Homo sapiens: one gene and its partner. Each later gene encodes a partner of the first gene's protein in a complex. Each region holds a gene or a part of one and is shown in the gene's direction. Other genes may lie near its edges.

Evidence for each region. The genes of interacting proteins can lie anywhere in the genome.
Region 2: the proteins of USP19 (region 1) and SIAH1 are in contact, whole or in part, in a crystal structure (PDB 4X3G), measured with the Homo sapiens proteins. Residues at the interface, in NP_006668.1 of Homo sapiens: Lys463, Pro464, Thr465, Cys466, Met467, Val468, Pro469, Pro470, Met471; in NP_003022.3 of Homo sapiens: Cys130, Pro131, Thr156, Leu158, Gln159, Asp162, Ile163, Val164, Phe165, Leu166, Ala167, Thr168, Leu172, Val176, Asp177, Trp178, Val179, Met180, Asn276.

What each region holds. Positions count from the first base shown.
Region 1 is NC_000003.12:49,117,808-49,125,140, reverse strand, and holds the start of USP19 (ubiquitin carboxyl-terminal hydrolase 19), read left to right. Parts: upstream 1-4,317; 5' UTR 4,318-4,385; exon of another isoform or gene 4,386-4,673; intron 4,674-5,859; 5' UTR 5,860-5,995; coding exon 5,996-6,119; intron 6,120-7,020; coding exon 7,021-7,194; intron 7,195-7,310; coding exon 7,311-7,333. Other genes in the region: LAMB2 (laminin subunit beta-2 precursor), read left to right, coding at 1-135, 216-440, 529-746, 855-951, 1,041-1,413, 1,510-1,694, 1,768-2,009, 2,089-2,437 and 5 more. UniProt on the Homo sapiens protein: Deubiquitinating enzyme that regulates the degradation of various proteins by removing ubiquitin moieties, thereby preventing their proteasomal degradation. Stabilizes RNF123, which promotes CDKN1B degradation and contributes to cell proliferation.
Region 2 is NC_000016.10:48,382,407-48,389,310, reverse strand, and holds the start of SIAH1 (E3 ubiquitin-protein ligase SIAH1), read left to right. Parts: upstream 1-3,897; 5' UTR 3,898-4,107; intron 4,108-4,441; exon of another isoform or gene 4,442-4,535; intron 4,536-6,904. UniProt on the Homo sapiens protein: E3 ubiquitin-protein ligase that mediates ubiquitination and subsequent proteasomal degradation of target proteins.

The sequences.
Region 1 (7,333 bases):
GGCTGCCATATGGGGGCCAGTGCCGGCCCTGTCCCTGTCCTGAAGGCCCTGGGAGCCAACGGCACTTTGCTACTTCTTGCCACCAGGATGAATATTCCCAGCAGATTGTGTGCCACTGCCGGGCAGGCTATACGGGTGAGTGGATGGGGGCAGGCGTGGGATCAGGGTGAGTTGGCTGGGCTGAGCACTCACAGCTTCCTCTTAACCGTGGGCAGGGCTGCGATGTGAAGCTTGTGCCCCTGGGCACTTTGGGGACCCATCAAGGCCAGGTGGCCGGTGCCAACTGTGTGAGTGCAGTGGGAACATTGACCCAATGGATCCTGATGCCTGTGACCCCCACACGGGGCAATGCCTGCGCTGTTTACACCACACAGAGGGTCCACACTGTGCCCACTGCAAGCCTGGCTTCCATGGGCAGGCTGCCCGACAGAGCTGTCACCGTGAGTATGAGTGTGGGAGGGCATGGCTGAATTGGGGTTCTGCTTCTTGGCCTCCTCTTGACTACTGTGCTCATCTTGGTTGGCACAGGCTGCACATGCAACCTGCTGGGCACAAATCCGCAGCAGTGCCCATCTCCTGACCAGTGCCACTGTGATCCAAGCAGTGGGCAGTGCCCATGCCTCCCCAATGTCCAGGGCCCTAGCTGTGACCGCTGTGCCCCCAACTTCTGGAACCTCACCAGTGGCCATGGTTGCCAGCCTTGTGCCTGCCACCCAAGCCGGGCCAGAGGCCCCACCTGCAACGAGGTATGGGACCCTCCTGCAGATCCCTGGTTAGATGGGGCCAGGTGTCTGTCTTATCTCCAGGGCTTAGCCTCTTATAGAGGCTCTGACCCTGCCTTGTTCCCACCCCAGTTCACAGGGCAGTGCCACTGCCGTGCCGGCTTTGGAGGGCGGACTTGTTCTGAGTGCCAAGAGCTCCACTGGGGAGACCCTGGGTTGCAGTGCCATGGTGAGGGAGCCAGCGGGGCCAGGGTAGATGGAGGACTTCCCAGAATGCCCCACAGTGACCCTAACTCTGTGCTCTGCTCTTTCTTGCAGCCTGTGATTGTGACTCTCGTGGAATAGATACACCTCAGTGTCACCGCTTCACAGGTCACTGCAGCTGCCGCCCAGGGGTGTCTGGTGTGCGCTGTGACCAGTGTGCCCGTGGCTTCTCAGGAATCTTTCCTGCCTGCCATCCCTGCCATGCATGCTTCGGGGATTGGGACCGAGTGGTGCAGGACTTGGCAGCCCGTACACAGCGCCTAGAGCAGCGGGCGCAGGAGTTGCAACAGACGGGTGTGCTGGGTGCCTTTGAGAGCAGCTTCTGGCACATGCAGGAGAAGCTGGGCATTGTGCAGGGCATCGTAGGTGCCCGCAACACCTCAGCCGCCTCCACTGCACAGCTTGTGGAGGCCACAGAGGAGCTGCGGTGCGGAAGGGCCTAAGAATACATGGTGGGATGGGGCAGAGGCCCAGTGGACCAGGGCTGAAGCCTCTCTAAACACCCCCCTCTCCATCATTGCAGGCGTGAAATTGGGGAGGCCACTGAGCACCTGACTCAGCTCGAGGCAGACCTGACAGATGTGCAAGATGAGAACTTCAATGCCAACCATGCACTAAGTGGTCTGGAGCGAGATAGGCTTGCACTTAATCTCACACTGCGGCAGCTCGACCAGCATCTTGACTTGCTCAAACATTCAAACTTCCTGGGTGAGTTGTTAGCCAACTAGGCAGGTGGACCAGGGTCAGTCTTCAGCTGACTGTCTGCCTCTGCCCAATTTAGGTGCCTATGACAGCATCCGGCATGCCCATAGCCAGTCTGCAGAGGCAGAACGTCGTGCCAATACCTCAGCCCTGGCAGTACCTAGCCCTGTGAGCAACTCGGCAAGTGCTCGGCATCGGACAGAGGCACTGATGGATGCTCAGAAGGAGGACTTCAACAGCAAACACATGGCCAACCAGCGGGCACTTGGCAAGCTCTCTGCCCATACCCACACCCTGAGCCTGACAGACATAAATGAGCTGGTGAGGTTGAAGTGTTGGGTGGGGCAGGTGGGTGTAGATGTTCCTCTCACAGGGCCCTGACTTGTTCTGTGCCTGGCAGGTGTGTGGGGCACCAGGGGATGCACCCTGTGCTACAAGCCCTTGTGGGGGTGCCGGCTGTCGAGATGAGGATGGGCAGCCGCGCTGTGGGGGCCTCAGCTGCAATGGGGCAGCGGCTACAGCAGACCTAGCACTGGGCCGGGCCCGGCACACACAGGCAGAGCTGCAGCGGGCACTGGCAGAAGGTGGTAGCATCCTCAGCAGAGTGGCTGAGACTCGTCGGCAGGCAAGCGAGGCACAGCAGCGGGCCCAGGCAGCCCTGGACAAGGCTAATGCTTCCAGGGGACAGGTGGAACAGGCCAACCAGGAACTTCAAGAACTTATCCAGAGTGTGAAGGACTTCCTCAACCGTGAGCCTCCCACGTGTCCCAGGCCATGTGGTTGTCCCCTTTGGCAACTCCCGGTGTCTGTATCTCCCTTGGTTCATACTTGAGCCTCAGGGACTACACTGGATTAGTGTTTATGATCCCTTGACTGGCTCCTGAGTTATTGCCCATATGTGGTCCCAGGTCCATGTTCTTGAGTCTGAGCCCCTTGTATAGTCCCTGTCCTTGTGATTATATCCTTATGCCTGGTAACAAACCCCTATCCCATGTACATGTCCTGAGTCCATACCCCAAAACTGTATCCTCATGCCCATGCTGGAGAATCTATGTTCTTAAGTTCTTGCTGTGTCCCTATAGAGGAGGGGGCTGATCCTGATAGCATTGAAATGGTGGCCACACGGGTGCTAGAGCTCTCCATCCCAGCTTCAGCTGAGCAGATCCAGCACCTGGCGGGTGCGATTGCAGAGCGAGTCCGGAGCCTGGCAGATGTGGATGCGATCCTGGCACGTACTGTAGGAGATGTGCGTCGTGCCGAGCAGCTACTGCAGGATGCACGGCGGGCAAGGTCTGACCCCATCCCTGGCCCCTATCCCTGACACCTGGTTTTGATACCTCCAGGTTCTGATTCCCCCTTCTCCCCAGGAGCTGGGCTGAGGATGAGAAACAGAAGGCAGAGACAGTACAGGCAGCACTGGAGGAGGCCCAGCGGGCACAGGGTATTGCCCAGGGTGCCATCCGGGGGGCAGTGGCTGACACACGGGACACAGAGCAGACCCTGTACCAGGTGAGGTCTTCCTAGGACATCAGTGGGACAAGGTTATGGGCATGAACCGTAGATCTGTGTAACCTTTGGCTCACCCATGGCAGGTACAGGAGAGGATGGCAGGTGCAGAGCGGGCACTGAGCTCTGCAGGTGAAAGGGCTCGGCAGTTGGATGCTCTCCTGGAGGCTCTGAAATTGAAACGGGCAGGAAATAGTCTGGCAGCCTCTACAGCAGAAGAAACGGCAGGCAGTGCCCAGGGTCGTGCCCAGGAGGCTGAGCAGGTGGGTTGAGGCAGAGCCAGCTGGAGAAGGTAGGGGTGGAAGATGGGCCTCCACTGAGCTACCACGCTAACCTAACCCTCTACATCTGCAGCTGCTACGCGGTCCTCTGGGTGATCAGTACCAGACGGTGAAGGCCCTAGCTGAGCGCAAGGCCCAAGGTGTGCTGGCTGCACAGGCAAGGGCAGAACAACTGCGGGATGAGGCTCGGGACCTGTTGCAAGCCGCTCAGGACAAGCTGCAGCGGCTACAGGGTAAGAAATGGGGCACCAGAGACACAAGACTGCGGGAAACCCCCCCTAAACTGACACCTGCCCTTCCTAGAATTGGAAGGCACCTATGAGGAAAATGAGCGGGCACTGGAGAGTAAGGCAGCCCAGTTGGACGGGTTGGAGGCCAGGATGCGCAGCGTGCTTCAAGCCATCAACTTGCAGGTGCAGATCTACAACACCTGCCAGTGACCCCTGCCCAAGGCCTACCCCAGTTCCTAGCACTGCCCCACATGCATGTCTGCCTATGCACTGAAGAGCTCTTGGCCCGGCAGGGCCCCCAATAAACCAGTGTGAACCCCCACTGTGTTGTCTGGACTCTGATTTGGGGCGGGCGGGGGAGTCTCCAGGGGAACCTCGAGGTTGCCCCCAGCAGAACCCATGCACCGCTAAGCCACCCGAGCACCGCCTCCTTCCGCTCGGGCCCGCCCCGGAGCTGCGGGTCGCTCCGAGCCCATTCCCGCCGGAAGTGCGTCACCAGCTTGGCGCTCCGCCTCCCTCGGCCTTAGCTAGAAGTCGAAACAAAACAAGCCGCTAAGGCGGTGGCGGCGGCGCCGGGACGGGGGAGGGGCGCGCCGGAACCGGAACCGACCTGCGCCGGAACCGGAACGGAGAGCGGGTTGCCAGGGCCCGAAGAGGGCTGGCTGCGGCGGTCTCGCTCGGTGAGTGGAGCAGGCTGCAACTCGCTGGCTTGGCCGCAGCGGGGAGGCCGCAACGCGCGGCCGCGGCGGCCTGTTCAAGGTCACGGGCCGTGCCAGTCCCTACCCCTAGTGCCCCGCAGCGTGCCAGCCCACTGATGCCGGCAGGGCCGTTACGCTATGCCTGTGGCCAGCCTCCCACCTGGGAGAGGACTGGCGGCCAGCGAGGGCAACTTCGTGGGAGAGGTGGTGGCGGGCTCGGGGTTCAGAGGCTGAAGCTGGGTCGCAGCTCGACCGGGGCGCTGATCTGTGGTCAGTAACCCCGCGCTGCCATTTCAGGCCGGCTCGGGTCTCTAAACAGCCCCTTACCCGCCTCGACGTCCCTGGGGCATGGGGGAGGGACGCGACCTTCGGCTGGGGCCTGGGTGCAAGAAGGAGGCGCCGGTGGCAGGTGTCATTAAAGATCCAGCCCACCAGTACCACATCTGACCTGTAGAAGGGTATCCTGCCATCCCTCCTTCCTCCTTTACACACTTAGGGGAACACAGACTAGTCATTATCTGTCCTGCTACTGGTTCAGGCCAGGCTTGAGGCTGCCAGGAGTCCTGGATCTGTGGTCCTCCCCAGCCTCATCTCAGTATCTAGTTTCAAGACCTTCATTTTGGAGGAGGAAACAGTCCAGAATCCACTGGTGGGTCTGTGGGAAACTGTAGTGGTCCTTGTGGCTCAGAGCTCATGAGTGAAGGCATCTGGGAAGGAAGGTGATAATTTCTGTTCCAGTCTCAAACTGGATGCCCATCCTGCCTTAGTACTGGAGCAGGGTTGCTGCTGAAGAGGTAGCGTGACATCTAGATACACTTTTCAGTCCCTTTCTGCTTGGGACAGCAGCTGGGGAGAGGACTTTCTCTTGAAATGAAGAAGGACCAAGCAGTACATAGGAGCAGGTTCTTGCCAAGGGTGGGAGCTGGCAGGAGGCAGGTGGAGTGCCTTAGCCCCAGGACTTTTTCTGGGCAATGGTAGAACCTGGGTTGAGCCTGTTTACAGCCACAGAGCCTGGTTCTCCTGCGGCTTGTCTCCTGTCCTGCCTTCCTCCTCCACCTTCTATTTCTCCAGTGGTGACTAAGCAGCCAGTGAGAGTGAAGGAAAAGTGAGCACCCTGCTCGGAGTGCCAGCCCTGTGGGCTGGAGCCGTGGCTCCTCTCCAGATTGGTGGAGTAGCCTGGTCCCAGGCCATGACTTCCTTGACCTGGTGCCCCCTCAGTGAGGCTTTCACCTGTGTGGGACTGTTATGGTGGGTATCTATGAGGCTTGGCCAGAAGTGGTTGCTGCTACTTGCATTATTTATTACCTCTTCAGAATATCCTGAGAGTGTCCAGGGGTACTTAAGAGATGAGAAGATACAGCTCTGTAGCATTAGTGTCCTGTGTTGCTGAGCCCTGGGTGTAGCTAAAGAGCAAGTTGTTGGGTCTTGGCAGTGATCACTGGCTTCTTTCCATTAGGCTGTCCGTTCCTTGCTGGAGAATTTGGCCACAAAGAGTTGCCAAGATAGCTGGGCCAGGAAGAAAGCGCCGCAGCCCTGACCCAGACGCTGTTGCCGACCCCGGGGCACTCTGGCTGTCGACCAAGCGGCTCAAGATGTCTGGCGGGGCCAGTGCCACAGGCCCAAGGAGAGGGCCCCCAGGACTGGAGGACACCACTAGTAAGAAGAAGCAGAAGGATCGAGCAAACCAGGAGAGCAAGGATGGAGATCCTAGGAAAGGTGGGAGTGGCATTCCCAGAGTAATTGTGGCCTTCTCTGCCTCCCATCTTATTGGTATACAGATTGGGGTTTGGGAGATGACTTTCTTGTTCTTCTCTCTGTCCTGGTTTGATGATGAGAGAAGAAGGACCCATGATAACCTCAGTAGAGCCTCAGCTTTGAAGCCTGAGTACTTGGCTAAGATCCAGAAGATGGTGCTGTTGGGGGGCTTGCCTTCTTTCCTTTTTAAACTTTTTTCTTTTTTTTGAACCTGTTCTTTTTTTCCTTTTTTTTTTGAGATGGAGTCTCATTCTGTAGCCCAGGCTGGAGTGCAGTGGTGCAATATTGGCTCACTGCAACGTCCACCTCCTGGTTCAGGTGATTGTCCTGCCTCAGCCTCCCAAGTAGCTGGGATTACAGGTGCATGCCACCACGCAAGGCTAATTTTTTTTTTTTTTTTGAGACAATGTCTCACTCTGTCATCCAGGCTAGAGTGTAGTGGCGTCTTGGCTCACTGCGGGCTCTGCCTCCCGGGTTCAAGTGATTCTGCTGCCTCAGCCTCCCAAGTAGCCTCAGCCTCCCAAGTAGCTGGGATTACAGGTATGCACCACCACACTCAGCTAATTTTTGTATTTTTAGTAGAGACGGGGTTTCACCATGTTGGCCAGACTGGTCACAAACTCCTGACCTCAGGTGATCCACCCACCTCGGCCTCTCAAAGTGCTGGGATTGCAGGCGTGAACCACCGTGCCTGTCCCTTTTTTTTTTTTTTTTTTAAAGGCAGGGTCTCACTCTTGCACAGATTGGAGTGCAGTGCAGGTGTGATCGTAGCTTACTGCATCCTCAAAGTCCTGGGCTCAAGCAGTCCTCCTACCTCAGCCTCCTCACCATGCTTGACTAATTTTTCTTATTTTTTTTTTAGAGACAGGGTCTCGATATGTTGCCCAGGCTGGTCTTGAACCTCTGGCCTCAGGTGATCCTTCTGCCTCAGCCTCCCATGCAGCTGGGATCACAGGCTCACGCCACCGTACCCGGCTGTTCTTTCCTTCATCGTCAGGGTCAGCATCCACTCCTCAAGAGGAGCAGACCAAAGAGGGTCAGTAACGAATGGGCTTTTTGTTGCTAGGGAAGGGGAGGGGGCACTTGCAATTTGGCTCCCATCTGAAGCAGTTTCATTAGGCTGGGTCTCTGTTACCTGCTTATCACCATCAGGAGCTTGTGAAGACCCTCATGAT
Region 2 (6,904 bases), on another chromosome or scaffold:
CACTGCATTCCAATGAACTCAAGAACAACAATTACTTAAACTAATTGTCAGTATCACCTACTTCCACCAGCTACATAAAAACCTCAATGATTTTCTAATTTTTTTTTTTGATACAAGGATCTTGCTCTGTTGCCCAGGCTGGAGTGCAGTGGTGTGATCTCTGCTCACTGCAACCTCCACCTCCTGGGTTCAAGTGATTGTCCTGCCTCAGCCTCCCGAGTAGCTGAGATTACAGGCATCCACCACCACACCTGGCTAATTTTTGTAGTTTTAGTAGAGACGAAGTTTCACCATGTTGGCCAGGCTGGTCTCCAAATCCTGACCTCAGGTGATCTGCAGGCATTGGCCTCCTAAAGTGCTGGGATTACAGGCGTGAGCCACCGTGCCCGGCTCTAACTTCTTGAAAAATGTGATGCCTAGCATGTAACCTTTTTCCTAAAGAAACTTGATTATATTGAAGGAAAACTACAGTTATGGGCGAACTCATTTCCCAACCACTTGGGCTTTTGGGAACTTCCTTCAGCTACTTCCTGTTTCATTCTTGGATGCTCATGTTGTGTCTCTAACTTCTCCACCATGTCCAGGAAAATTTGTTTGGGATACTGTTTAACACATTCACCAACCTCAGACAGTGACTGGCAACAGGTGTGTCTGATAAAGAAAACATTGTTTCTGCTCTGCTGTAGGCATGTCTGACAAGTTGGGGACCTGCTTTCCTTTGCAAAGCTTATAGGAGTCTATTTGGGAGGGAGGAACCGCCTTCCAGTTTCCAGGCTGAAAAAGATTCTGTTTCGCTACCAGCAGAGCCAGGCTTGGAAGGGAATGCTAATATGTTTCCAGACCTATCCACCTAAGCTGAATGACAAATGGGTATCAGTGGTTTAATGTAAGAGGAGATAGCTATAGTTTCCTGGGCAAGAGACATCTGTGATTGCCTGGAAACAAACACAGCCCATCGGTGATTCAATAGATGGGTTTGGTCTTGTGAACTGGTCTATTGTAAAATAACTATATTGACATGAAGACACTTGGAAATCATCTGTTCAGTCTTAACTAGTTTAGCCAACTTTGACAGCATTATCTGAGAGGCTGAGGCACAAGAATCGCTTGAACCCAGGAGATGGAGGTTGCAGTGAGCCGAGATTACAAAATAAATAAATAAATAAATATCAATTTAATATAAATTCATAGCAAAACCCCCAAATAAAGATACTCTCATCAGTGCCTGTTTTATTTATTCATTTATTTTTATGTTTTTAGAGATGGAGTGTCCCTCTGTCACCCAGATGGGAGTGCAGGGGCACAATCATAGCTCACTATGGCCTCAAATTCCCAGGTTCAAGCAATCCTCTCATTTTGGCCTCCTGATTAGATGAGATTACAGGCGCACACCACCCTGCCGGGCTAATTTTTAAACTTTTTATAGGGACGGGGTCTTGCTATGTTCTTAGGTTGGTCTGGAACTTCTGGGCCTCAAGCGATCCTCTTGCCTTGGCCTCCCAAAGTGCTGGGATTACAGGTGTGAGCCACCGTGCCTGGCCAGTGCCTGTTTTATTCATAAGAGGAAAGTAATTTACATCACTGGTACCTTAACTACGGGCCAGATGCAGGACCAGAGCGTTATGTTCCATTGCAATAGATGGAATTACCATTTGATGTGATTTGAGGGGACCAGGAAGGCTCCCTATCCAGATGTGGCCTGAAAATATTTGTCACCGTTACTGAAATCCCATCAATTGGAGGATTATTTGGATAGGCTTTACAGTTTACAAAATGCTTTTCTATGGATAAACTGTCAAGGAAGCAGAGTCAACTCCCTGTTCAGAAAAGGTGCTTAGTTACCCCCACAGTGGAGCTATTTTCTTTCAAATGGAAGGTACATTTTTTTGAGAGGGGGAGTAAATTAAATTTATAATGGTGATGTTTATGTCCCACCCATAGCTACCACCCAGAATTAACCAAATCAGATTGAGCCCCGCCCAAATCTAGGTAGGAATTCTCAGAGATGGAATTAACCCGATTAAATTTGTTTTGTATAAAAGGGAAGTGGGGAAAGTAAGAAGTAACTTGGACTCTTCTAGAGGAGAGCAGGCACAAACTAAGCCAAGAAAAGCACGTTTGAGAATTCCAGAGGCAGAAGTTGCTTCTGGGTGCCTGACGTCAACGATCCAGCACTTCAAGACTGGTGTGCGGCATCCTCAGGGGACACTGTGTCCTGGGCACCCCTGCAGTTTAAGAGAATCCACTAGTTTATAAGGTAAGTCCTCGACTGTCAGCAGTGGGCCAGAGACAGACTGTTATTTTCAGATGGACAAATGCTGTTGGGTAGAGGAAGGGATGCGGGATAAGGAGGACAAAATCTGACTTTGGCAAAGCCGGGTGTTTAGAACTTTAATCGCCACGTTGGCAAGTTCTCTCTTAGTCCGTATCCATTTCACTGCTTGCAGAGCGGCCCAGGGGTTCTGGGGGCGAGAAACACATCTCACCCCAGAGCTGCTCCTCGCCCAGGACAGAACTCCTCTGCCCTTCACGACCAGGTCAAGGCCACATGGCTATGCCAAGCACATAGTCTGTAAAAATGGAAAATTTACCTCTAAACTGAAGTGAACCGAACTCTATTGACCTTCCCGTGTACTGAGGAGCTATAACTTCTCCCCAAAAATGTGAAAGTAAAATTGCAGTTTAAATCATGTAATTAGGAATACTGTAAACTAGTGTTTTGCACATATAAACTTTATCATACACTGGGAATTTGTACATACGTGCCCGGTATGGGATTTTTCTATTTTTATTTTTATTTTTTTGAGACAGAGTCTCGCTCTGTTGTCCAGGCTGGAGTGCAATGGCCTGATCTCTGCCTCACTGCAACCTCTGCCTCCCGGGTTCAAGCGATTCTCCTGCCTCAGCCTCCGAGTAGCTGGGACTACAGGCGTGCACCACCACGCCCGGCTAATTTTTGTATTTTTAGTAGAGATAGGGTTTCACCATGTTGGCCAGGCTACTCTCGAACTCCTGACCTCAGGTAATCCATCGGCCTCGGCCTCCCTAAGTGCTGGGATTACAGGCGTGAGCCACCGCGTCCGGACGGAATACCATTTTAATAGATCTTACATGGAATTCCAGTTAGGGCTTGTAAATGTCTCAGATGCTTGCTTCTGCTCATAGCACCCATCAAAGAATTGCAAGTGATGTTTTCCTTTTATTATTTCAAGAAGTGGAATGCAGAGTCCCTAATTAGGGACTTTCCAGATGAGCATGGACACAGGAAAACGCGTGCTTCCCCATTACCCACTTTTCAGCTGAAACAAGCTTTTGAAGCTCGTCCCGCTGTTGCTGAGGAGCGGCTCAACCTCGGGAGAGGCTGGGACTCTCTTTAGGGGTGGGGTCCCGGTCGGCGGGCAGGGCAGCCGCTTTTTCTTTGGGACTGAGTGGAGTTGGGAAGGATCCGTGGAGGCGCTGGGCTAAATCAGCAGACAAAACAAGGGGGAGGGCACAAGGCCGCGGCGGCGGCCAGCCTGGGGCTCGCATCCCGCTGGGCGACCCCTCCGGCCGGAGCCGGGGGGGTCACGCGGCCCCGGAACAAAGCGCCGCGGGAGGAGCTGCCCTGAGCCGACGGGCAAGCGCTAGCTTCTCGCGGGCCAGAGCGCCACGTGCCAGGATCCGTTGAATGCGCGGTGCACGGGCGCAGCAACGGTAGCCGAGTAGCCCCCGCACCTACTGCCGCCTTTGGAGACCCGCACAGCTACGCCCGCGGAGGCCGCCGCCGGCCGCGCCAACGCCTGTGCGCCTGCGCGCCCGCGAAAGCCCCGCCCCCCCAGGCTCCCAGCGCGCGGGGCCGCGCCTCCTCATGGCCGCCGCCGCAGTGTGTGGTATTTAGCGGGGGCGCGCGGCGGGCTCGAGGACGCGCGAAACGGCGGCGGCGGCGGCGGCCAGGGGGGAGCCGGGGCGGCCGTTGCGGGGCGCGCTCTCGAGAGGCGGCGGCGGCCCAGGGTGTCCCGTCGGTCTCGGCGCCGGGAAGAGGCGGTGGCGCTGCCCGCGGTGGCGGGGGTTGGCGACGGAGCGCGTTGGTGCCAGGACCGGGGTCCGAGGCGCGCTCTCCGCCCACAGGTAAGTGGGGCCCGGCCTGAGGGAGGAGCCGGCGGCGAGGGGCTCTCCGACAGGCGGGCGCCCAGGCCCGGTAATGGCGGAGGGCGGGAAGGGCGGCCCGGCCGGGGCGCGGGCAGTAGTCGGCGCGGCGGCGCCTTTGTCTCGGCCGGAGTCGGGCCGCCCGGTCGAGCGCCGCCCCCCGCCCCTCCCCTGCCTTCAGCCTTCGCAAGCCGGCTCGCCCCCGCCCCTGGAGCCCCGGGCCCGGCGGGGTGGCGGCGGGGGTCGGCCCCGCGCGGCCGGGCCGAGGGCGGGGGAAGGGCCTCGGCGGCGGCCCGGCCCCCGCGCGCCCGGGAGGCGGGCCCGGCCGGGGGTGGCGCCCGGCGCGCCCCGCGCCCTCGTGCCGGCCTTTGTTGTGGAGGGTCCCGGGGTGTGCGGCCAACATGGCGGAGGTCAGCTGAGTGCGGGCAGCTGCCGGGGCCCTGCCCTCCCTCCCCCTCCTCCCCGCGGCGCCCGGAGGCCCGGGCCGCACCGCGCCGCTCGGCGGGCCTCGGCCTCCGCTCTCTGCCCCCGACCCCCGGCTGGAGCCGTCCGGGACGGGGCTGCGCTCTTCCTGCCGCTTCGGCCGGAGGCTTCATTGTGCAGTGGGAAGAATGCAGCCTCCTCCCTTGTTTATGTCGTTAGAGAGGAGAGCGCGTGAACGGCGTGCCGGGGAAGCTCTAGCTTATTATAAACCTGGCATTTCCTAGGGTTCATTTGCCGGGTAGTTTGGGGTCCTTTCTTAACTCTCCCAAATTTATAACTTAAAGTGAATAACCTGGGCCACTCCGATGCGTAGGTTCGTTTTCGCTGTCTGCCCGTTCCTGGAAAGATACATAATTTGTTTGCTCGGACATTCAGAAAAGTCCAGCTTGGGTGTTCGGAAAATCAGATTGTGTGTACTTCTTTTGCCAAAGTCATAGAGGCCATAAACAAACAGAGAGACATGGATACTGGATATGGGACGGTGTTCTGACTGTCCCTTCCTAGCAGTTGAGCATTTACCTTTGCTTATAGCGGCTGTCAAGGGTAAATTGTTAACTCTTCAGCAGTTGGATGTTGAGAGCACGGGCTGTGAAGTCCGACTGTCTGCTTTGGGTCAAATCCTGCTCCACTGGTTTGTGACCTTGGGCAGATACTTCTCTGTGCTTCGCTTTCCTTATCTGCAAAATGGGTGTAACGACAGTATCTACCTCAAGCCCTGTTGAGAATTGATGAGATGACAATAGGTGGACTGAAAGCAGTGGCAGCCCCATACTAAGTTCTCAACAAATGCTTACTGTTAAGACTGTAGTTTAATAGCTAAACTTACGAGGTTTTCTTGGCATGATGTGTTGGTATGATGAAAGTGCATAGACCAGAATTTGTGAAATCAGGTCACAGATCTTTAGTGCTGGGTTTTTTCTTTCAATGCATTTTGTTGTTAAAAAGGACAAGGAGATTTGTATGATAAATTAACAGACTTTCTGAGATGGTGGCATTTTGGAAATTGCTGTGGCCGGGGATTTGAATGGCTATATCTTTGTGATTAAAAAAAATCAAATTGATTAAAATGAGGTCTTCTCTTAGCTAGTTTAGATTTATTGATCAGTTCACTTTCAAGGACTTGAGTTAACCAACTTAGAAAAGTGGGACAGTGAATACTTGAGTGTGTATCTATGGTGTTACCATCACTTTTAGAAGTTACTGAAGAGCAGAATGTAGTGTGGTGGCAAATGTAATGGTCTGGTAATTTTATCTGGGAGTTGTTGGCTCAAATTATGGTGGAGAGGATTTTAATTAGTTGTTAGGAGGACTTTAGACTGGTAGATCTTGAGACTCAAAGTAGATTACACAAATTGGTTGTGTAGTGTTTCATTCTGAAAATTTAAATAAAGATACAGATTTCTGTAATCTTGGATGGTTAGTTGCGATTATATCCAGAATTTGTTCCCCAAAGTTTATGCCAAACAGTTTTTTTTTCGTTATTGGCATCTTTCCAACATAATTTACTAACATTTAATATTTTAAACTGAAATACGTATAATAGATGTGAAACTGATAACTTTTCAGGATAAGTATTCCACAAAGTACAAATTCAGAAACAATGTTAATGCATTTTACATCTGTTAAATATTAATCTATTCCCTCTAAGCTTCGGGAAGTTCTTACGAAATTGCTGTAGAGAAATATTCTTTCTTAATATCTGTAATTAAAAAGCATGATTAGGTTAAATTGGAGTTATGAAGGAATTATCTAGCTATGTCAGTAATGACATAAAATAACAAATAGGATTTTCAGTGAGTATGGTGTTTTGAAAACAGATCTTACATAACTAGGGTAACAAAGTTTAGTAATTTACAGAGTTTTAGGTGACTGCTTAAATTGTATTTTTAAGCAGTTGATTTACAAAATTTTTAAAGATTGGAGGTTCTTTGTTTAAAGAGATTTATTAACAGAATTTTGTGGAATTTCCATATTCGCTTTGTGAAATGTTAAAATCTAGATATTTTTTGTACAGCCCTCTCTTTCAACAAAATCTGTATGAAATCCCCAGAACCTTCCATCCCCCCGCCAAAAAAGGAAATTTTCCTTTTTACAATAAGTATCCTTAATAGTATTCTTCAAAATAGCAGGATGTCTAATGCACTTTAAATGATTTAGTTCCCATGGCTATAGTTACTAGAATATCTGCTGCATAAGGGCAAGAATTGTGTTTTTAATATATATCCTCAGTACCTAGTGCTCAGTAGGTATTTGTTTACTCACCTACTACTGTGCGTATTCTAATGACATTCAGATC